Homo sapiens: one gene and its partners. The protein of the gene in region 2 purifies or fractionates together with the protein of the main gene of each other region. This does not show direct contact. Each region holds a gene or a part of one and is shown on either strand. Other genes may lie near its edges.

Region 1 (7,026 bases), about 10 Mb from region 2:
CTCCGGTTTGTGGCTCTGAGGGGAAGATGTGGAATATCTCGGACTCCTCCCATTATCATCAGGGGAGGCAGAGTACAGAGGCCAAACAGAGCACCAGTGGCCTTTTGGTGATGGGTTACCAGGTCCCATTCTGTCTGTGGCTCTGTGGCTCTGGGCCCCTCTCCCCTGGTGAGGAGTCACCCTTCTCCACATTGAGGCCAAGGCCCAGAGAGCTTAGGAACCTGCACTAGGCAGGGTGGAAATACAGCCTGCAGTGGCCTAGGCTCCTGCCCAAAAGCACACAGCTTCGTCAGCATTCAGGAGGCCACACAACTGCTGCTACCCTAATCCTAGTGACAACTTGCCTAGTACTACAATGAGCATATGTGTCGGTCTGCCTGGCTTTATACCTACTCTTGTCATAACTATGAATAGCAAACTGCCCCCTTTACTCTCAAAAGCATCCTGGTGTGGAAAGGGAGATGGTTGCTCTCATCTCACGCTGAGTATGTGGACACTGGGCCAGGTATTTCCGGAGACCCTATGAAGTAGTTACGTTCCCATTTTATACGGGGATAACTCACAGATATTATGTCAACTAAACAGATCCCAGATTAAGATGGAGTAGGGTTTTAAAAAATAAGAAGGGGGCTGGAGACATAAAACCCCTGAAAGGAGGTCAGGACTGAAGCATACAATCAGGCTCCTCCGGCCAGAGAAATGGACCCCAAGCAAAAGAAGCTGCCAGGCCCTCTATGATGACAAAGCACAACTCAAACCGAAGCCTGACTGCTGCCCTGTCTAATGAGGCAGGCACCAGCCACTGGTGGCTATTTACGTTTATCAGAAATTAAACTACATCAGAAATTGTTGCTCAGTTGCACCAACCACATTTTAAGGGCTCATAGCCACATAGTAGTGGCTACCATATTAAACAACACAGAGAACATTCCCATCAACACAGAAAGTTCTTCTAGACAGTGCTGCCTTAGAATTCTCTACCTTCAGCTTGTTTAAAAAAAAAAAAGAAAGAAAAAAGAAAAAACAGCCCACTCTACCTTTCTGAAATAGGCCGGATGCTTGAGATGGTCACTTCTGGCTCCTTCTCCTCTACCCTGTCCATACCCCAGGCAGCATCTGTATCCCAGCGGGAGCCAAAGCTTTCCCCTAAGGAAAAGGGATTGTCCTTGTACCTAGGGAGACAGTAGAGTGGCTCAGAGAAGCCTGATGAGGAACACAGCAGCCAAGTTTACAGCTAGAAAACAGCCTTACTTTGGGGGTCCAGAGGCGAAAGTACCAACATCGTCAAACAAGTCCAGCTGCGAGCGAGAGGATTTTGCACTCACTGGGGTTTCCTGCTCAATCACCTGCATCTCAGACAGCACGGAGTGGGAGACAGAGCTGCGCAGCAAAGCAGAGCCAGGCATGAGACCAAAGGATAGGCATCAGCATCACCGCACAAGAGACAATGCCCAGCAACTGGGTTCTCCTTCACGGAGCGTCACCCAGAGCCTTCTGTCCTTACCCAAGCACAGGGCTGGGCCAGACCCCAACAGAAGGCTAGCTGTGTGTGGTGACCTGTGAAGCACACCTCAGAATTCTTTACACATCAGCTTTGTTTATTCCACGTAGGAGTTCCCTGGCCAGTGACGGTTTGCCTGTTATAATTTAATTTTATTTATTTATTTGAGACAGATTCTCACTCTGTCGCCCAGGCTGGAGTCCAGTGGTGCAATCTTGGCTCACTGCAACCACCACCTCCCAGGTTCAAGCGATTCTTGTGCCTCAGCCTCCCGAGCAGCTGGGACTACAGTGCACGTCACCACACCCAGCTGATTTTTTGTGTTTTTTCAGTAGAGACAGGGTTTCGCCACATTGCCCAGCCTGGTCTCAAACTCCTGAGTACAGACAATCCACCCGCCTTGGCCTCCAAAAGTGCCAGGATTATAGGCGTGAGCCACTGTGCCTGGCTCGTGTTGTAATTTTAATATTGTGCACCAGATGCCAGTGGTCTCTGTCCTGAACAACTCCCTACCTTGTGCACTATGAACCCCATCCTTCACTGATGGGGTTCACAAAGCAAAGGAATGGATGAAGAAATGCCCCAGCACCAGGGAAATGAACATAACTGCATCAAAGAATGAGTTCTTCATCATCCTACTCTTTATTAAAAAAAAAAAAAGCCAGGCACCGTGGCTCACACCTGTAATTCCAGCACTTTGGGAGGCCGAGGCGGGCAGATCACGAGGTCAGGAGATCGAGACCATCCTGGCTAACATGGTGAAACCCCGTCTCTACTAAAAATACAAAAAAATTAGCCGGGCATGGTGGCAGGTGCCTGTAGTCCCAGCTACTTGGGAGGCTGAGGCAGGAGAATGACGTGAACTTGGGGGGCGGAGCTTGCAGTGAGCCGAGATCGCACCACTGCACTCCAGTCTGGGCAACAGAGCGAGGCTCCGTCTCAGAGAGAAAAAAAAAAGCACCTCAAAGCACAAAGACTGGCCTTATGCACTAAGACCTAGAATTGCTGTCTCGTTTCTCAAAGAAAAGGGGTCTAGGGTTGGCAGGCAATACAATACAACTCTTGATGCCTCTCATTCCTCTGTCAGGCTCCACAAGGACACTTTAAGGACTAATTTGATTTAAATCAATTCATTAAAAAATATCTATAGCTTTTAGCTAGAAGAACCCCAAGGAGTGATTATTTTGCAATAGGGCTGAGTTGGGCCGGGCATGGTGGCTCACACCTGTAATCCCAGCACTTTGGGAGGCCGAGGCAGCCGGATCACCTGAGGTCGGGAGTTCGAGACCAGCCTGACCAAGACGGAGAAACCCTGTCTCTACTAAAAATACAAAATTAGCCAGGTGTGGAGGCTGAGGCAAGAGAATAGCTTGAACCCCGGAGGCGGAGGTTGTGGTGAGCTGAGATCACACCATTGCACTCCAGCCTAGGCAACGAGATTGAAACTCTGTCTCAAATAAATAAATAGGGTGAGTTGGGTTTAAGTAAACAATTGTTGCACTGCTAAAAAACTGTTCATATGCCTTAACCCCTTGGTCATCCCTTAACCCAGTCATCTATTAACCCAGTCATTCCTATGTGACTGAAGCAGGGAAAGGAGGGAGACCCAATGTCCTTTCAAGTTAAAATGTTATGCTCTGGCTGGATGTGGCTCACGCCCGTAATCCAAGCACTGGGCGCCGTGGCTCACACCGGTAATCCCAGTACTGTGGGAGGCCGAGGCGGGCAGATCATTTGAAGCTAGTAGTTTTACACCAGCCTGGGCAACATGGTGAAACCCCATCTCTACTAAAATACAAAAATAAGCTGGGCATGGTGGCACATGCCTGTAATCACAGCTTCTCAGGAGGCTGAGGCAGGAGAATTGCTTGAATCTGGGAGGCGGAGGCTGCAGTGGGCTGAGATCACACCACTGAACTCCAGCCTGGGTGACAGAGCAAGACTCCATCTCAAAAAAAAAAAAAAAAAAAAGAAAAGAAAAGAAAAAAGAAAGCCGGGCACCGTGGCTCATGCCTGTAATCCCAGCACTTTGGGAGGCTGAGGCAGGTGGATCACTTGAGGTCAAGAGTTCGACATCAGCCTGGCCAACATGGTGAAACCCCATCTCTACTAAAAATACAAAAAATTAGCCAGACACGGTGGTACACACCTGTAATCCCAGCTGCTTGGGAGGCTGAGACAGGAGAATCACTTGAACCCAGGAGGTAGAGATTGCAGTGAGCCAAGATCGTGCCATTGCACTCCAGCCTGGGTGACAGAGTGAGACTTTGTCTCAAAAAATAAAAATAAAAAGCCATAGCAGCCAGACATGGTGGCTCACATCTGTAATCCCAGTACTTTGTGAAGCCAAGGTACTTAAACCCAGGAATTCGAGACCAGGCTGGACAACATAGCAAAACCCTGTCTCTACAAAAAGTAAAAAAATTAGCTGGGCATGGTGGCTCCCGGCTGTGGTCCCAGCTATTTGGGAGGCTGAAGTGGAAGGATCACCTGAGCCCAGGAGGCAGAGGTTGCAGTGAGCTGAGATCACACCATTACACTCCAGCCTAGGCAACAGAGCAAGAATCTGTCTCAAAAGAAAAAGAAAGAAAACCACAGCAAACCGAGTGGTTCTGAAACAGGAAGGATTCCACCCAAACTGAGGGCATTTGAAATGTGGGGGATATGTGAGGGTATTACAGGGAGCACAAATGGCATCTCTAGACAGGAATTAAGGATGATACTAAATGCACCGCAATTCTCAGGGAGGTCTGGAAAAATAAACTGTCCCATGACTCAAAGTGCCATCAAGAAAAACCACCCTAGTCTCTTGAAGATACTGAAATAACACCTGATCCTGTGTTTTGTTCACATACCTATTCAGTCATTCAACTTACTGAGCACATACCTACTATGCGCCAAGCACTGTATTAGGGACTTTAGAACAATAAGCCAAGTGATCTATTCAGACTTGGAGAAACAATAAGCCTAGCATCCCAAACTGCTAGGAAGGCCCCGCAATGGTTCCCAGAAAACAACGGCATTTCCCTGCCACACCCGGAGCTGAGCCTCACCTTCGGGATACCAAGCCCATGCCCAACCTTTCTGCCTGCTCTCGCTTCTTCCCTTCCAGATTCTGTAGCTTCTTTTCCTCTTTCTTACGATCAATCTGGAGCTCCTGGTAGGCCAGACGCATGGAGGCGACCCTTAGGGGGAACAAAGGTGTCAGTGGCCACCACCCATCCTGACCTGTCCAACATACCCACCCACCAAGCCCCGCAGAAGCCTGAGGCCCCGGCAGCAAACACTTACATGGACTCCTCCGCCTGCTTCTTGGCATCGGCTGCCTGCTGCTCACGGAGCTTCTCTGCCACCTGAGCCTGCCGCTCAATCTCACTGAAGCTCTGGCTGCTCACCTTCTGGGCCCCTAGGCCTTTCTTGGCACCCAGCTGGGAACAGAATCATGTAAGGGGCCTTCCCAATCACACTCTCCTCAGATCCCTCCCAGGTTCAGGCACTGTAGCCACACCCACAAGGAAAAGGCCCTTCTTAAAATTTAGGGTAAAAAACAGGAGCCCAACCAGCATGGCCAAGACAATAGTGCTCCGCTGGAGCTGGGCATGGGCGGCTCACACAGCCCCAGCAGAGCCCGGGCCTGAGGACGGCAGTTAATGCTGACAGGGCCAAGTATGTGCCAAGCACTCCGCCAAGCACTAGATGTGCTCCATCTCACCGACTCCTCCCAGCAGCCCTTGAAGACAGGCTTTAAATCCCTTTAAATCTTTAAATCCCTTTCACAGGCGAGGTTCGGAGAAACACAGTACCTTTGCCAAAGTCATATAGCTGGTAAGTGGTAAGGTCAAGGAGTGAACCCAGGTAGCCTGCACCCAGCTCCTAACCCCTCTACCATACCACCTCTCCCCACCTACCCCTTTCTTAGCTGCTGCTGGCTTCTTCTTGCCAATGATGGAGCTTTTCAGTTCTGCGTGAGAAACGGGTAGGCATGAGCTAAGACAAAGGCAGCTCAGAGGCAGTAGCTCAGTATACACCATGCAGCTTCATGGCAAGAGCTCCTAAGAACAGCTTCAGGCAAGGGAAGGCAAAGCTGCCACCACCAGCTCCAACCAGCGGTGTCAAAGCCAAAGACAGACGTGGCTGGGGTATTTACTGGCACCCAGCAGAGTGAGACAGGAACCTAGACCTGAAGCACCAGAGACGTCCGAAGCACCAGAGACGTCCAAATTCCCTGAACCAAAACAAAGACTGCGAGGCAGGGAGCATATGGTGAGCACCAGGCTCCGCTTCTAAAGCAGGAAGCTGAGAACAGGGGCTGGGCTCCCCAAGCAGCTGTCAGTTACCTCTGGCAGGAAGGGCCCCTTTAGCTGACAGATACACGGACTCTGGAGGAGAAACAGACTTGTGGCTAACAAGAGGCCCACCCCAGAGCCTCCACAGAGCTCCCAAGCCCAGCGGTCTCTATGAAGCCCTGCTTCAGACCAAGCTATGCCAGCCTTCTCATGGATCAGTCTGACAGTCACTCTGCTGGGTTCCAGCCCCAACCCCCAAGAGTCAACAGAACAAACCGAGGTCAGCAAATGGACTGTTCGCCCTGAACCAAGTCTGAAAGACACTAAGGAAAATGTAGGAAAGAGTTAAAGGACAGGCTGGGGTACTGGCTGAGAAAGAACAATGTCACCTCCAGCCTTCGGCAGCTCAGAGCTGTCCCTCCACCCCCGGAAATGCACCAGACAAGCCAGCCCTGCCTCAGAGCCCAGGGATAGGTGTCCAGTCTCATGCTGGCCTCCCCAACACTTTGGCTAGACCCAGCCCCACACTCAGAGGCAGACCCCAGGCCTTATACACCAGCCCACCCAGATTCATCAATTCAAAGGGCTTGGCTCTAAAATCAGTGTTGCATCCACTATTTCAATCACAGTCCCCACTCCAGAGAATCAGATAGATGCTCAGTCTCCTGTGGCCTCTGTCCACACGGCCAGGCAGTAGGACCTCTGAAAAGAACATTTGAGGTCCACCCTCTCCCAGACACCCCACGCCTGCCCGCTGGCATACTGACCCAGTGAGGCTTTGGGTGAGGTGCCAAGCAGGTCTGTGTTGGGGCCATGCTCCGGCTCTGTGGATGCAATGGTAGGAGTTAGAGATGAGCTCCTAGCTTCCTGCAACCTCCCCTTGAAAGAAGTGATGGGACAAGAATCGGTGGCTTTCCTCAGCTTGCCACCAAAAGATAAAAGGAATATCTACCACTTCCTCCAAGGATTAAAATGAATCCCGGCCCACCCAAAGATACAGGAGGACCCCTGCTCCTATTGTCATGGCCAGATGTCCCCTTCCAAACCCTGAGTCCTCTCCTAGGACCAGGGCACCTGGTTGGAATCTGGGCTGAACTCACGTGCCAGGCCACTGCTCTCTGTAGACGGGGCTGGCTGCTGGGTCCCTGAAGGCTCAGTGGCTGGCGCATCCCAGGCAGGGGGCTGAAAAGGAGGCCAGATCACAGATGCCTCGGTGAGCCACTCCTGCTGGCAAGAAGC
Region 2 (7,026 bases):
GGCAGGAGGTGGCAGGGGCCAAGTCCAGGCAGGCAGCAGCAGGGCTGCAACTGAGAGCTGAGGCTGGAGAGGTAGCGCTCGCCCTAACCTGATCCTGCAGGTCTCAGGCCCTGGGGTCATATACTCGCCCCATGAAGACAGGGAACTTGTGCTGCTGGTCCCAGAGCACGAAGAGGAAGGGCTGCTGCACTTCAAAGACCAGCAGGGTGCGGGCCACAGAGATGGCGGAGGCTGCAGCCGCCTCCACCCCAGTCTCTGTCAGTTCCAGCACTGTCTGGTGCTGCATCGCAGAAACCTGAAGATCTGGGTCCTCTGTCAGCCCACACAGGTTAAGGTCATAAGAAAAATCGAAGAATTCTAGGGCAAAACCAGAGAAAAACAGAGTCAGAAGCCAGCATGATACCCTCAGCTGATGGAGACCTTTGTCCTGAATTCTCTGGGTTCATCCTGAGTCCCAGTGCTCTCTTCCTCTTCCCTTGTTTGCCAGATTACATACTGTACCCTCTGGCAGTTCGTGGGATCCTCTATTAGTGGGCCCAACACTGCCACTCTCTCTCAAGGTGAGAGGCCTTGCCCCTCATCCCTAAAACAACCCTGAAAAATGATGTCATTGCCTCCTTATCTCCCAGGACCTTGGAAGTGAGGTAATAGATCAGAGATAGGTCATATATGAAAAAATGAGGTTATATGCAATGCCATGATGCTGTGAAATAATGGGAAAATATGCTATAGGAGCATCTTTAGCTCCAAATATTAGACCATCTAATATTTGGTCTCCGATCCCAGTTCCTGACACAGAGCTACTAGATCCCTTGGAATTTCCTGGGTCATAGGAATGCCTTTTGTGCTAATGAGGCTACTCCTGCTGGCTCCTGGATTGGGGCTGGTCACCAGAAAGACCAAGTGTGATTAGAAGCTTGGAACTTTCAGCCCCTCTCTCCATCCTCTGGGGAGAAGAGAGGAGCTGGAGATTGGGTAATAATCAATCATGCCTACATGATGACTTCTCCTAAAGTACAGGGTTCTGAGAGTTTCTGGTTGGTGAACACATACATGTGTCAGGAAGGTAGCAAACAGAACTCCACAGGATAGATGCTGCTGGGCCCAGGACCCTTCCAGATTTTGCCCTATGTATCTCTTCAACTGGCTGTTCATCTGTATCCTTTACTTAATCCTTTACATAATAAACCAGTAAATGTAAGTGTCTCCTGAGTTTTGTCAGCTATTCTAGCAAATGATGAAACCCTAGCAGGGAGTTGTGGGAATCTCCAAATTATAGCTGGTTGGTCTGATGCACAGGTGACAACCCAGTCTTGTAACTGACATTGGAAACGGGGGGAAATTTGCTGGGGCGGAGCACTTAAACTGCACGGGATCTGATGTTATTTCCAGGTAGAGTGTTAGAATTGGATTCAATTGTAGGACACCCAGTTGGTGTCCCCAGATAACTGGAGAATTGCTTAGAAAACACTCCCACACCTGTTTGGTGGCCAGAAGTGTTGAATGAAAATAAAAAAGAGGTTTTCTTCCTATACAGATGACATATACAAGGAAATGGAATCATGTGTTAGGCGGTCAAATTCTCTAACAAGAAATGAAGTGACAGGGCTGGACATGAGATCAAAGGTTAGAAAATGAGGCTGGGCACAGTGGCTCACACCTGTAATCCCAGCACTTTGGGAAGCCGAGGTGGGTGGATCACTTGAGCCCAGGAGTTCAAGACCAGCTTCACCAACATGGTGAAACCCCATCTCTACTAAAAATACAAAAAAATTAGCTGGGCGTGGTGGTAGGTGCCTGTAATCCCAGCTACTTGGGAGGCTGAGGTAGGAGAATCACTTGAACCCAGGAGGCGGAGGTTGCAGTGACCCAAGATCATGCCACTGCGCTCCAGCCTGGGTGACAGAGTGAGGCTCCGTCTCAAAAACAAACAAACAAAAAAACAAAGGTTAGAAAATGGAGTCTCTGGGCTGGGCGCGGTGACTCATGCCTGTAATCCCAGCACTTTGGGAGGCCGAGGCAGGTGGATCACAAGGTCCGGAGATTGTGACCATCCTGGTTAACACAGTGAAACCCCGTCTCTACTAAAAATACAAAAACAAAATTAGCCAGGCGTGGTGGCGGGCACCTGTAGTCCCAGCTACTCGGGAGGCTGAGGCGAGAGAATGGCATGGCGTGAATCTGGGAGGCGGATCTTGCAGTGAGCAGAGATCGCACCACTGCACTCCAGCCTGTCCTGGGTGACAGAGCAAGACTCCGTCTCAAAAAAAAAAAAAAAAAAGAAAATGGAGTCTCTGTTGCCTCTCGTAAACTCAGAAGCCTCCAGATCTGCACTTCCAGATAGCTTCTTGCATATTCCACGGGGTGGCTGACTGTTTTGAAATGTGTCTGGGGAAGGAGCATCCATAATTCACCTCGGTTACCTGTCCCACTGTTCCACTGCCTATGTCACAAGGAACCATAGAAAAAACTCAGGAGAGCTGGAGACCTGGGTCGGTGTTCTGGTTTGCCTCTGACTAGCTCAAGGGTAAATCATGGAATCTCTGGGTAAGTCACATAAAGCTTCTGAGCCTCCATTTCCACAATGATCCAATGGGATAATAGCACCTACCCCTCTAACTTGCAGGGTTGCAGGACAAACTGAGATTATGGATGTAAAAAATACTCTAGAGAATGCTAACTACATCTTAGGGATCCCCCCTTTCTCCTCTGATGGCCTGGGAGTAACCCTAAGCTGCCAGAGCTCACCCAATTTCTCCATGATTGAGAGCATATCCTGGCTGGTCGTCACTTTGATGCGGGGTAGTGTTAGGAGAGTGGGCTGGAACTTGGACATCTCCAGTTTCTCCATGATGGCCTTGAAAACAGAAGGGCTGAGAGCCTGTTCCATGTCTTCAAGACGATGTTTCAGGTTCTGGGGTACCAGGATCACCAAACTCAGATTGTGGGAGAGCTGCAGCTGCCCCACCTAGAAAATAAGAGATGCATCTTAACAGTCTTCCTACCGCATCTCTCTCCTGGCCCCACCCTCTGTCACAATGCTGTCCTGCAGTCTGCTCCCACAGTCTGTATTTCAACAAGCATCAGTCAGACCTAAGCTTCCAGGCTTTACCATGAAATGGGGATACCAGCTGGGTGAACAGTGCTGATCCAACTCTGTGCTGGGGAGAGGTAGAGGAAGGAGCATGAGTTTCTGATTATACCCTGACTCCACCACTGACGAGCTATGTAATATGGGCAAGTGATTTGATTTCTCTGAGCGCTGTTCCCTTCCTTCCTAATGTGTTGTGCATATAGTATATAGCATGCACATTGAACCGCCAGAGTTATCAGGTCAGCCTCTGTAAAAACTATTGATGGCTCTTCACTGCCTATGAGAATAAGTACAAATCTTAGTATGGCATTCAAGATTGTTCACAGCCTACCTTTCCACTTTGCTATTAGAAGGACTTTTGGTCATGCACGGTGGCTCACACCTGTAATCCCAGCACTTTGGGAGGCCGAGGTGGGCGGATCACGAGGTCAAGAGATTGAGACCATCCTGGCCACCATGATGAAACCCCACCTCTACTAAAAATACAAAAATTAGCTGGGTGGTGGCACGTGCCTGTAATCCCAGCTACTCAGGAGGCTGAGGCAGGAGAATTGCTTGAACCCGGGAGGTGGAGGCTGCAGTGAGCCGAGATCATGCCACTGCACTCCAGCCTGGTGACAGAGCGAGACTCCATCTCAAAAAGAGAAAAAAAAAAGAAGAAGGACTTTCAACTGGTGACCAGACAAAAGTATGTAAGAAGTGCAGGGCCCCTGGGTTTAATACAGGGGTTGTCAACTCGGAGTGAATTTGCCTCTCAGTGGACATTTGGTAATGTCTGGAGACATTTTGGTTGTCATAGCTGGCAGGGGGCAAGGAGGATGTGCACACAGTGCTACTGGCTTCTAGTGAGTAGAAGCTAAGGAAGATGCTAAATTCTACAATGCACAGGACAAAGAATTATCTGACCCAATATGTCAATAGTGCCAAGGCTGAGAAACCCTAGTCTAATAGGATATGAGACTGTCATTAAATGGTATTATGATTGAGGCTGAAGGAACAAAAAGAATCTAGAAGAATGCAGAATTCAACTGGGCAATAAAGAAATTAACTGAAAGCAATCAATTGTCGGAACCTGAATAGCCCAGAAGAAGTAGATAGTAAGCCAATTTCGACTGAAAAGAGTGGACATGGGGTCCCTGTTGATGTAGCACTCAAGTTGGATATACTCATTTGAGTAGCATGTGCCCTTCAAGTCCTATGTATGAACCTTGAATCTCTGAAGAAAAATTTACCATGCTGTGGTCTTGAATTTTCAAGCCAGTAACCTCGGTGTACCTGAGCCGGTAAATCTCACCCCCTTCCTTGGGTAAATATCCTTAAGTGCCAGGAAGATTTAGAATTTAGTATAAGAATGACAAAAGAAACCAACTTCATCATGTTAAAACCAGGTGTTAAGTTCAGGGTAACCTGTATGTTTGTTATTTAAAATAGTGATTGTAATTTTTAAGAGACTCTGACATGCTAGTTTTATGCTTTTAAGCAAAGTTGTAGGATAATTTCATTAAATGTGAGAATGATATTGGAATGTTGGCTAGAAGTTAATTCACCCTTCAAATTTAATTTTCAGTTTACAAGTGAGCTTTAGGTGTTAGGATGATATGGCCAAGCACAGTCGTAATTACGACCTGTCAGGTATTAGATGTGTTTAAAAAGAAAATCAGCTGGGTGAGGTGGCTCATGCCTGGAATCTCAGCTACTTAAGAGGCTAGGGTGGGAGGACTGCTTCATCCCAAGGAGCTTGAGGTTACAGTAAGTGAGGATTGTGTCACTGTACTCCAGACTGGGTGATAGAGTAAGACCCTGTCTGGGAAAACTACATAAATAAATAAAAGAAAAAAGAAAATCGAGCATATTAAATTTTTAAAGGGAGCTTAAAATGCTTATGGGAATACTAATTATGTTTGTAGATAGAAAAAATGGTTTAAAGGAGTTTAATCTGTTCAATATGGCAATTAATTCAAGAACAAATGAGAGTGTTTTTATATAAAAATCACCCTATTTTTTTTTTTCTGAGACAAGGTCTCACTCTGTCGCTCAGGCTGGAATGCAGTGGCATGATCTCGGCTCACTGCAACCTTCGCCTCCCGGGTTCAAGCGATTCTTCTGTCCCAGCCTCACAAGTATCTGGGATTACAGGCGTGCACCATCACACCCGGCTTATTTTTTGTATTTTTAATGGAGATGGGGTTTCACAATGTTGGCCAAGCTGGTCTCGAACTCCTGACCTCAGGTGATTCACCTGCCTCGGCCTCCCAAAGTGCTGGGATTACAGGCGTGAGCCACTGTACCCAGCCTATTCTTTTTTTGTGTTTTGAGACAGAGTCTTGCTGTGTTGCCCAGGTTGGAGTGCAGTGGCGCGATTTTGGCTCACTGTAACCTCTGCCTCCCAGGTTCAAGTGATTCTGTGCCTTAGCATCCTGAGTAGCTGGGATTACAGACATGTGCCACCATGCCTGGCTAATTTTTGTATTTTTAGTAGAGACAGAATTCCACCATGTTGGCCAGGCTGGTCTCAAACTCTTAGCTTCAAGTGATCCACCTGCCTCAGCCTCCTAAAGTGCTGGGATTATAGGCATGAGCCACTGCGCCCAGCCAAATCACCCTACTCTTAATGTAGCAAGTTCAGCTTAAAATTAAAAGGCATAAGTAAAATTTTAATTTTGCATTTGTTAGTACATTAAATTAATTATCTGTTTAAAACCTAAGGAACTCTAAATAGTGGCTTTTGTGCACAAAACTACTCCTCCTCCTTTGGCTTAAAAAAAAAAAAAAAACTCAGGCTGGGTGCAGTGGCTCACGCCTGTAATGCCAGCACTTTAGGAGGCCGAAGACGGACGAGCACTTGAGGTCAGGAGTTCATGACCAGCCTGGCCAACATGGTGAAACCCCATCTCTACTAAAAATACAAAAATTAGCTGGGAGTGGTGGCAGGCACCTATAATCCCAGCTACTAGGGAGGCTAAGGCAGGAGAATCGCTTGAACCTGGGAGGCAGAGGTTACAGAGAGCTGGGATTGTGCCACTGCACTCCGGCCTGGGCAACAGAATGAGACTTTATCTCAAAAGAAAAACAAACAAACAAACAAAACTCATATTGGCTTGGGGAGATAGAAATTACTCTTCATATTATACCTGCTTTGTATTTGAATATTTATTATTGATATTATATGTCCAGAATGCTCACCTTAACCTATCACCTCACCTCAATGGTTTCAACAGTCTACTCCCAAGGGATTTTTACAATGATTTTTGGTTTAGAGTTTTGTGTGAAACTTTAAAAACATTTTTAGAGAGGAAATACTTGTTCTTATAATTCGAATAGTTACATTTAAACCTAACTTGTTAAGTTCTTAATTCCTACTTTCCACCTAACATCTATGGCTTTGATTAAATAGCCATTCCAATTGATTTGAAAAAAATCTCATATTTATACCTCCCCCAACGTATCTTGAATTTGAACAATGCTCTGGACCTGTCACATATATTCACTCTTCTGTGCCTTATACAGGCTGTCCTGGTTCTGCTAAATGAGTCATGAATGGTCAAATACATTAGATAGGGATGGATAGATGGGTGGATAAGTCCATGAGTGGATAAATAACTGAGCAAAGAATGGTCAAAAATAACCTCCTCAGCTGGGCGCTGTGGCTCATGCCTGTAATCCCAGCCCTTTGGGAGGCTGAGGGTGTGGATCACTTGAGGTCAGGAGTTCGAGACCAGCTTGGCTAACATGGTGAAACCCCGTCTCTACTAAAAATACAAAAATTAGCCAGGTGTGGTGGCGGGCTCCTGTAGTCCCAGCTACTTGGGAGGCTGAGGCAGGAGAACTGCTTGAACTCGGGAGGCAGAGATTGCAGTGAGCTGAGATCATGTCAATGCACTGCAGCTTGAGTGACAGAGTGAGACCCTGTCTCGAAAAAAACCCTCCTCTAT
Region 3 (7,026 bases), on a different chromosome or scaffold from region 2:
GCACGTTGGAAAATGAATGAATACAAAGTGTTATAAAGTAAAAATCTGTCTAGTCTGTGCTAAATACACGAATGCATGATAAACTGTGAGGTGTGGAGGCAGTCAGGGAGCCTGCCCTATTTGTGATTGTTTTTGAACTTCATGGTAGTAAGAGGTGTTCCTTACCATTTTTGCTTTGCAAACATTTATTCCCTGAATTAACCCACCACTATTATGGCCGCCATCATTCACTTATTCTCCAAAAATTGGGTAAATAAATACCATGTTTGTTTTTATTAACCTTTCTTAAATGTTGTATAGCTCACATTTATTTCAATATTGAATGTTAGAAGTGTTTTGGGTCTTTATTTAGAAGTTTGCTGATGTTTTTATGACTAGAAATATTGCCACAAGAACTTCACTCTTCTTTTTTTGTTTTTTTTTGTTTTTTTGTTTTGAGACAGAGTCTCACTCTGTCACCCACCCAGGCTGGAGTGCAGTGGCGCAATCTCAGCTCACTGCACCCTCCACCTCCGGGGTTCAAGCAATTCTCGTGCTTATGGGCACGCACCACCACACCTGGCTAATTTTTGTGTTTTTAGTAGAGGCAGGGTTTCACCATGGTGGCCAGGCTGGTCTCGAACTCCTGACCTCAGGTGATCTGCCTTCCTCAGCCTCTCAAAGTGCTGGGATTACAGGCATGAGCCCCGCACCTGACCAACTCTTGTTTATATCAATTAGCTGGTGGTAAAATTGGTTTTGTTATACGTCATTTCACTTACAGTTGCAGTTTCTAAGAACCTATTTTTTCCAGGCATGCTGTTAAGTGGAGACTTACTGAAGAGTGGGTAGATTGTATCTCAGTTATCTTGGTCCCATGGAGGATTAGGCTGTATCTATTCTGGTAAAGTAGAGTTAATTACTCAAACGTTTCAGGCCTCAAAAACCCTGGCTTGGCTCCATCACTTACTAGCTGATGGCCTTAGACTAACCATGCTTTGGTTTTCTTATCTGTACCATAGAGATAATATTCATACTACCCATAGAGTGGTTATGGCATTCAGTAGAAGAATGCATGAAAAGCACTGGAAGACATCTAGTAAAACTCTTGGTAATTGTTAGCTGTTCTTATATTGAATTAAAATGATTTGGTTTTGCTTTTAACTAAGCTTGCAGATAGATAATGGTTTCACTTTGGTACAACCTTTTTGTTTCTGGACTGTAAGCTGGTACAGCTGAGGTTGCTGAAGAAACCATTCAAAAAGAAACTAAATCCTGTCAGGGAATCAGAGGGGAAACCGCCGATATGACTGCCTTGCGAAAACAAAGCCCACACATCCTTCAGCACCAGAGCCTGGCCTCACTTCTCTTTGTATCTCTTCTACCCCCAGCCCCTAAAGGAGAGCTTCGCACGCTGCAGGCACTGAAATGTCTGAGGAAGATCAATTCCTTGGCTCTGTGCAGGTCTTAATACCAGCAGGCTGGCCTGTCCTCCCATACCCCAGTATCTGGCTAATCATGAAATATAAGTACTAATTCTGATAAGGATGCCCACACAAAGGACCTCAAATAGTGTGCTTTCCCAGGGTATTAGGGCTGAATGTGAGTTTTGAAAACTTCTTTCTCACATCATCTAGATCCTGCTTCCCAGTAAGTTGCCTTTCTTCCTTCTCCTTCTACAAAGCAGACTCCAATTCTCTAGTGCCAACAGAGGCAAACATTTCTTTCTTTTTTTTTTTTTTTTTTTTTTTGAGATCGAGTTTCGCTCTTGTTGCCCAGGCTGAAGCGCAATGGCGCGATCTCGGCTCACTGCAACCTCTGCCTCCCGGGTTCAAGCGATTCTCCTGCCTCAGCCTCCTGAGTAGCTGGGATTACAGGCATGTGCCACCATGCCAGGCTAATTTTGTATTTTTAGTAGAGATGGGGTTTCTCCATGTTGGTCAGGCTGGTCTCGAACTCCTGACCTCAGGTGAGCCTCCCACCTCAGCCTCCCAAAGTGCTGGGATTACAGGCGTGAACCACCACACCAGGCTGAGGCAAACGTTTCTTAATTGTGTGGCTCTCTCCATCACTTCAATAGTCAATCAATTGCCTGGGCTGAAAGGAAATCCTGTACAGGTGGAGTTGCCTGTGCAGATCCTGGGGAAATTTCCTGCAGTTTAGAATTCTTAGGTTTAGGTGACTTTGATCTTCCTCCAGTTGCTTTATTCTGTGAGGCCCTCATCTAGAATCCCCAGGGGTATCACTAAGAGGAAATCACTCCACTCTGGTGATAACTTTTTTCTTTGGTGAAGAACCTGTTGTCCCAGGGGCATTCTCCCCTGGGTTGTGCCCAGCATGGGCGCGCCACTCCTGGTTACCTGGCAGGCGTCGTGCAAGTTTGCCTGGGGCCCGCCGCTCCGAGTGTCTCCAGCACACAGCATGTTGTCGGTGACTGTTCTGTTAAGTAAATGTTGTGATGTGCAGCGGCTGGATGGGTACAGTCTGACATGAGCCTCCTTCAGCCGCTCCGAATAGAAAGGAGACACTGAAAGGGGAGAACCATCATATGGTTTTAGGGAAAGTTATTTATAAACGTTTTTGAAAGAGAAAGCCAAATTTTCCAATAATAGCTAACATTGATCAAGATTCAACATGTATTAGGTCGAATCCTATGACACTGCTGGTATTTTATCGTTTTGACCCACAAAAACAGCAGGATTCCGGGATTGAACCCACAGCCTCTCCGTAGTGGCACTGCTGATGCTTCGGACCAGGGAGGTCCCTGTTGTGGGGGATGGGGACAGTCCCGAGCCCTGCAGTGTGCAGCATCCCTGGCTGCACTCACTGAAGGCCGGCGTTAACCCTCACCCTAAACTGTAACAACCAAAAACGTCTCCAGACCTCGCCAAACGTTTCCTGGGGGACAAAATCACCCCAGCTGACATCCATTCGTTCAATATTATCTCATTTAACCCTCCTAATCTAATTAGGGAGATAGTTCTATCTCCACTTTACCAACGAGGAAACTGAGGCTGGGAGCAGTTCAAAATAAAAATCCATGTCCACGGTCACACAGCTCAGCAAGTGGGATTTGAAATCGGGTCTTTGTAACTCCAGCTTCCCAGAACCCACACGCTTAGCGACTGTACTCCACTTCCTACTCAGAACCTTCCCAACACCTGCAGCACTTCGAGGCCCTCATACTGTTGTGTCCTTTCCTGGCCTGCAGTGTCCCTGTGAGGCAGAGACAGCAGAGACGGGCCCCCACGACACAGGGAGACGGGACTGGCGTCAGTGCCTGACCCGGGGCTGGAACTTCGGTCTCCTGACCCCATTTTCCTCTGGTGGACCGCAGCCTCCCCTGCTGTCCCGCAGACAGGATGGGGCCGAGACTTCCTTCCACTTACAGGCCTCATGCTTGCCGTAGCCGGAGAGCTCACACTCCGTCCAGTCCGGCAGCTGCAGGTCCGCCGGGGGAAGGCACACAGTGCGGACCACGCTGCTCTCCTGGGCACAGCGGGACGAATCCGATTTCAGCTGCAGCAGCGCTGGGAGGGAGAAAGGAGGAGTGAGCTGGCGTGAGGGCCGCGTCCCCGGGAGGGGAGGAACACGCAGGAGGGGCAGGGGCTGGAGGAGGAGGCCCGTGTGTGTAAACATAGGTGAGTGCATGTGGGTGTGTTGTGTGATCTGTATGAACTGGAGCCGGGAATGACGAGCTCTTACCAATGTCATTGTCGTAAGTGTCATCATCGAATTCCTTATGGACAATGTATTTTTCGACTTCAAATTTCTGCTCCTCCTCGCCAGGGACCACCCGGTATGTTCTGCCCAAGATCACCGTCAGGTGGTGGGGCGGAAACCTGGTGGAGAAACAGCCTTAGAATGCTTTTTTTGCTGTGGGATTTCCCCTAAAGGGCTTGGTTTCTAGGCGTTAGAGGGTGGAAAAACCAACTGGGTTTCCGAGCCCCTACCTCTCCTGGAAGCAGTGGGCGGCAGAGAGAATCCAGCAGGAGCTGATGAGTATGCCCCCGCACAGGAACCGCTCTCCGGGCGACCTCCTGTGCTTGGCAAAGATGGCAGCCTGCCAGGGGTGGGAGGCGATGTCGGCGAAGAGCCCTCCTTTGATGCGAAACTGAGGCTGGCTGTACTGTCTCAGGCCGCAGGTGGCTGGGGAGGAAAGGACGAGGAGGCAGTCAGTCCCACAGGCCTCCTGCACGTGTGTAGGTAGAGTGAGGAGGCCATCAGCATGGCTGTAAAACCACAACTTTCACTTGGTGGGATCAGCATGCCGAATGTTGTCCATACATTCTCTTTAGTTCCCACAGCGATAAGTTTCAGGAGGCGGAGACGTTTTTGCCCAAGGTTGCAATGGCACCTGGATTAGTTCCCAAGTATGTTTGACTCCAAAACTGGGGATCTGCCATCCTTCATTCCTTCTAATGTTTTCCTACAGCCATTTCCTGGCCTAAGAAATGAAGAATTGCAGCTTCCTTCTGTGGAATGTCTGCTCATTTCTTTTCCATCTGTCCAACCTTACCCATGCTTCAAGGCCCAGGTGCAATCCTGCCTCCTCGCAAAGCTTTCCTGACGTCCCCACCTGCTCAGCTCTGAGGAGCTTAGGGACACGGACCACTGAGGACTCACACTAATGCCCTTGGGTGTGAGTTAGCTGGTGGTCTGTGTCTCATCGTCCCAGTTGGACTTGTGTTCCTTGGGGAACATTCTGGCTGATCTGTGTTCACAGGAGGTGATTAATAACCTACTCTCTGGCCATTTCCAAACTAAAGTTTCATTTTTTAGCAATATGCACCAACTTGAATCTCCTATCTCTCACCCACATCATGAGCCAGCTCCCCTGTGTGAAATAGGTCAACAGGAAACGTGGAAGATCTCACAGTGGAAGTACATGCCATTGGGGTCAGAGGGCATGAGGGCAGGCCCTAGCTTTACCTCCCGGTGCCCAGCGAGCTTGGGCAGGCCACCTGGCGTCTGGGAGACTGCTTCCTACTCAGTAAACTGGAGGTAGGAAGACCACCTCCACCACGCTGTTGGACAAATGTGGTGAAGGCACTTTATTATCTAAGGAGCCATGCATGCGAGGCCTCCTCCTCATTCCCCATTACTCTCAGCAACACCAATAGAGGCGTCTAGAGAGAGCCGGGTAGAGCCTACTGACTTCTCAGAGAGGTTGCTGTGTTCTTTTCTTTCTTCTTGCCCCTCCCCACCACCCCCATGCATGGGTCATGGACACCCGCCCACCCACCGTGGCTTCAGTCATGGAAGCCCCCTCCCCACCCAGCCTGGAAGTCTGGTAGGCACACAGTCTGCACCAGACAGCCATGAAGGCCTAGAAAGTGGCGAGGAGATGGTGAAGAAGGGAGACCAGGTGCAGGGAGGCAGCCGGGGCCCAGCCCTTACAGCAGGAGGGCACATCACAGTACTCCCACGTCAGCCTGCGGTTCTTCAGCACGTGGCACCAGGGCTTGGCATCCCCATCAGGATTCCTAAATGATAAGAGAGTTTAAGGTTTCCTTTTTATCTTCTTATTTTTTAATTTTTGTAGAGATGGGGTCTTGCCATGTTGCCCAGGCTGGTCTTGAACTCCTGGGCTCAAGCAATCCTCCTGCCTCAGCCTCCCAAAGTGCTGGGATTACAGGCATGCACCACCACACCAGGCCAGGAGTTTAAGATTTTCAATCCCATTTTCAGCCACATCACAGGCCATGTAAGAGTAGAAGGAGACTCAGTCAACCAATGAAAACCACTGAGCTGGGAGGGAGGACACCGAGTTCATCTTGACCTTGCAGCACACCCCCACCCTAGGAGAACTTCTCTTTAACTTTGTTACCCAGTCAGTAATGTAGTGTTCTAATCTCATAGGGTTGTCAGACAGAACTGTGAGCTGTCCTGTTACGGAACTCTTACAAATCATTGCAATAAAGATGTCAGGAGAACAGCTGAGGACTAAATGGTTACAGGCCAGGACCCTTAACTTGGGATTTAGGTTGGAAAACTGGTAGACCTTGCTTTTCACAATATGTGTTATTCTAGCAAGTGAAGAGGTTGGATTAGATAATATCCATGGGTGCTTCCCACGCACTGGGTCTGTCATGCAACTTGAGACATTGGATCTTCCCCCGTCTCACACCCTAATCCCACGTTCTGCCAAGACCTGAACCCCCCACCCCTGTGCTACCTACCGGCAGTAATTATGTTTGCCCAGGCCCAGTGCCTGGGCACTGGGGTTCTGTGCTGTGTAAACCTTGCCTATCAGGATCATGGAATTCCACGGGAGGCAGGAGGCACCCGACTCGGTGAGGCTGTGCGTGCCACGGTAGGCTGACCCATTCCCAAAGTAGCAGTCACTGTTTCCTAGAAGAAAAGAATTCTCAAACTGAAACAAAAACAAATTCTGAAGCACGCAAGTCAGGGCTGGGGCTTGAAGCGGAGCTGCCGGTCGAGGAAGCTGGAGGCCGCTAGCCCGGCACTGAGAAGAGTGTAACACCTCACACTTCCCCTTTTGTTGCCCAGGCTGGAGTGCAATGCGCGATCTTGGCTCACTGCAATCTCCACCTCCTGGGTTCAAGCGATTCTTCTACCTCAGCCTCCCGAGTAGGTGGGGTTACAGGCATGCGCCACCATGCTACGCTAATTTTGTATTTTTAGTTGAGACAGGGTTTCACCATGTTGGCCAGGCTGGTCTTGAACTCCTAACATCAGGTGATCTGCCCGCCTCAGCCTCCCAAAGTGCTGGGAGTACAGGTGTGAGCCAACACGCCCGGCCTGAGCCTTTTTCCCCCTCTTTGAGTCCTTTTACTTAGAGATGGCAAGGGGGTTTCATCTCCACCGGAAGTGGCTCCCTAGATTGCTATGTTGAGAGAGAGTCTGGGGACATCTTCAGGTTCAGCAGGAAGAACCACTTCCATGAGTGGGGGCTGTTTCTGAAGCTGCTTTGAAAGCCAGTAGGGGTTTCCTTGTGTTACTTAACAGGCTGCAGTGAACCAACGTGCTTCAGTGGGGCTGGGGTGGGGGTTATTTCTCGGACTGTGTCTGCCAGTGTCCTGA

The links. Proteins that work in one complex are often made in the same cells at the same time.
Region 1: the proteins of SERPING1 (region 2) and ARFGAP2 purify together in Homo sapiens (affinity purification with mass spectrometry; 2 studies listed by BioGRID and IntAct, with this or other methods). This does not show direct contact.
Region 3: the proteins of SERPING1 (region 2) and PLAT purify together in Homo sapiens (affinity purification with mass spectrometry; 2 studies listed by BioGRID and IntAct, with this or other methods). This does not show direct contact.

Annotation. Positions count from the first base shown.
Region 1 is NC_000011.10:47,166,872-47,173,897, forward strand, and holds part of ARFGAP2 (ADP-ribosylation factor GTPase-activating protein 2), read right to left. Parts: coding exon of another isoform or gene 6,970-7,026; coding exon 6,888-6,969; intron 6,612-6,887; coding exon 6,555-6,611; intron 5,881-6,554; coding exon of another isoform or gene 5,839-5,880; intron 5,463-5,838; coding exon 5,410-5,462; intron 4,930-5,409; coding exon 4,793-4,929; intron 4,687-4,792; coding exon 4,555-4,686; intron 1,381-4,554; coding exon 1,252-1,380; intron 1,173-1,251; coding exon 1,038-1,172; intron 16-1,037; coding exon 1-15.
Region 2 is NC_000011.10:57,607,659-57,614,684, reverse strand, and holds part of SERPING1 (plasma protease C1 inhibitor precursor), read right to left. Parts: intron 2,969-7,026; coding exon 2,749-2,968; intron 358-2,748; coding exon 104-357; 3' UTR 1-103. UniProt on the Homo sapiens protein: Serine protease inhibitor, which acrs as a regulator of the classical complement pathway. Forms a proteolytically inactive stoichiometric complex with the C1r or C1s proteases. May also regulate blood coagulation, fibrinolysis and the generation of kinins.
Region 3 is NC_000008.11:42,176,558-42,183,583, forward strand, and holds part of PLAT (tissue-type plasminogen activator isoform 1 preproprotein), read right to left. Parts: intron 6,334-7,026; coding exon 6,162-6,333; intron 5,466-6,161; coding exon 5,380-5,465; intron 4,129-5,379; coding exon 3,933-4,128; intron 3,822-3,932; coding exon 3,685-3,821; intron 3,510-3,684; coding exon 3,369-3,509; intron 2,507-3,368; coding exon 2,340-2,506; intron 1-2,339. UniProt on the Homo sapiens protein: Converts the abundant, but inactive, zymogen plasminogen to plasmin by hydrolyzing a single Arg-Val bond in plasminogen.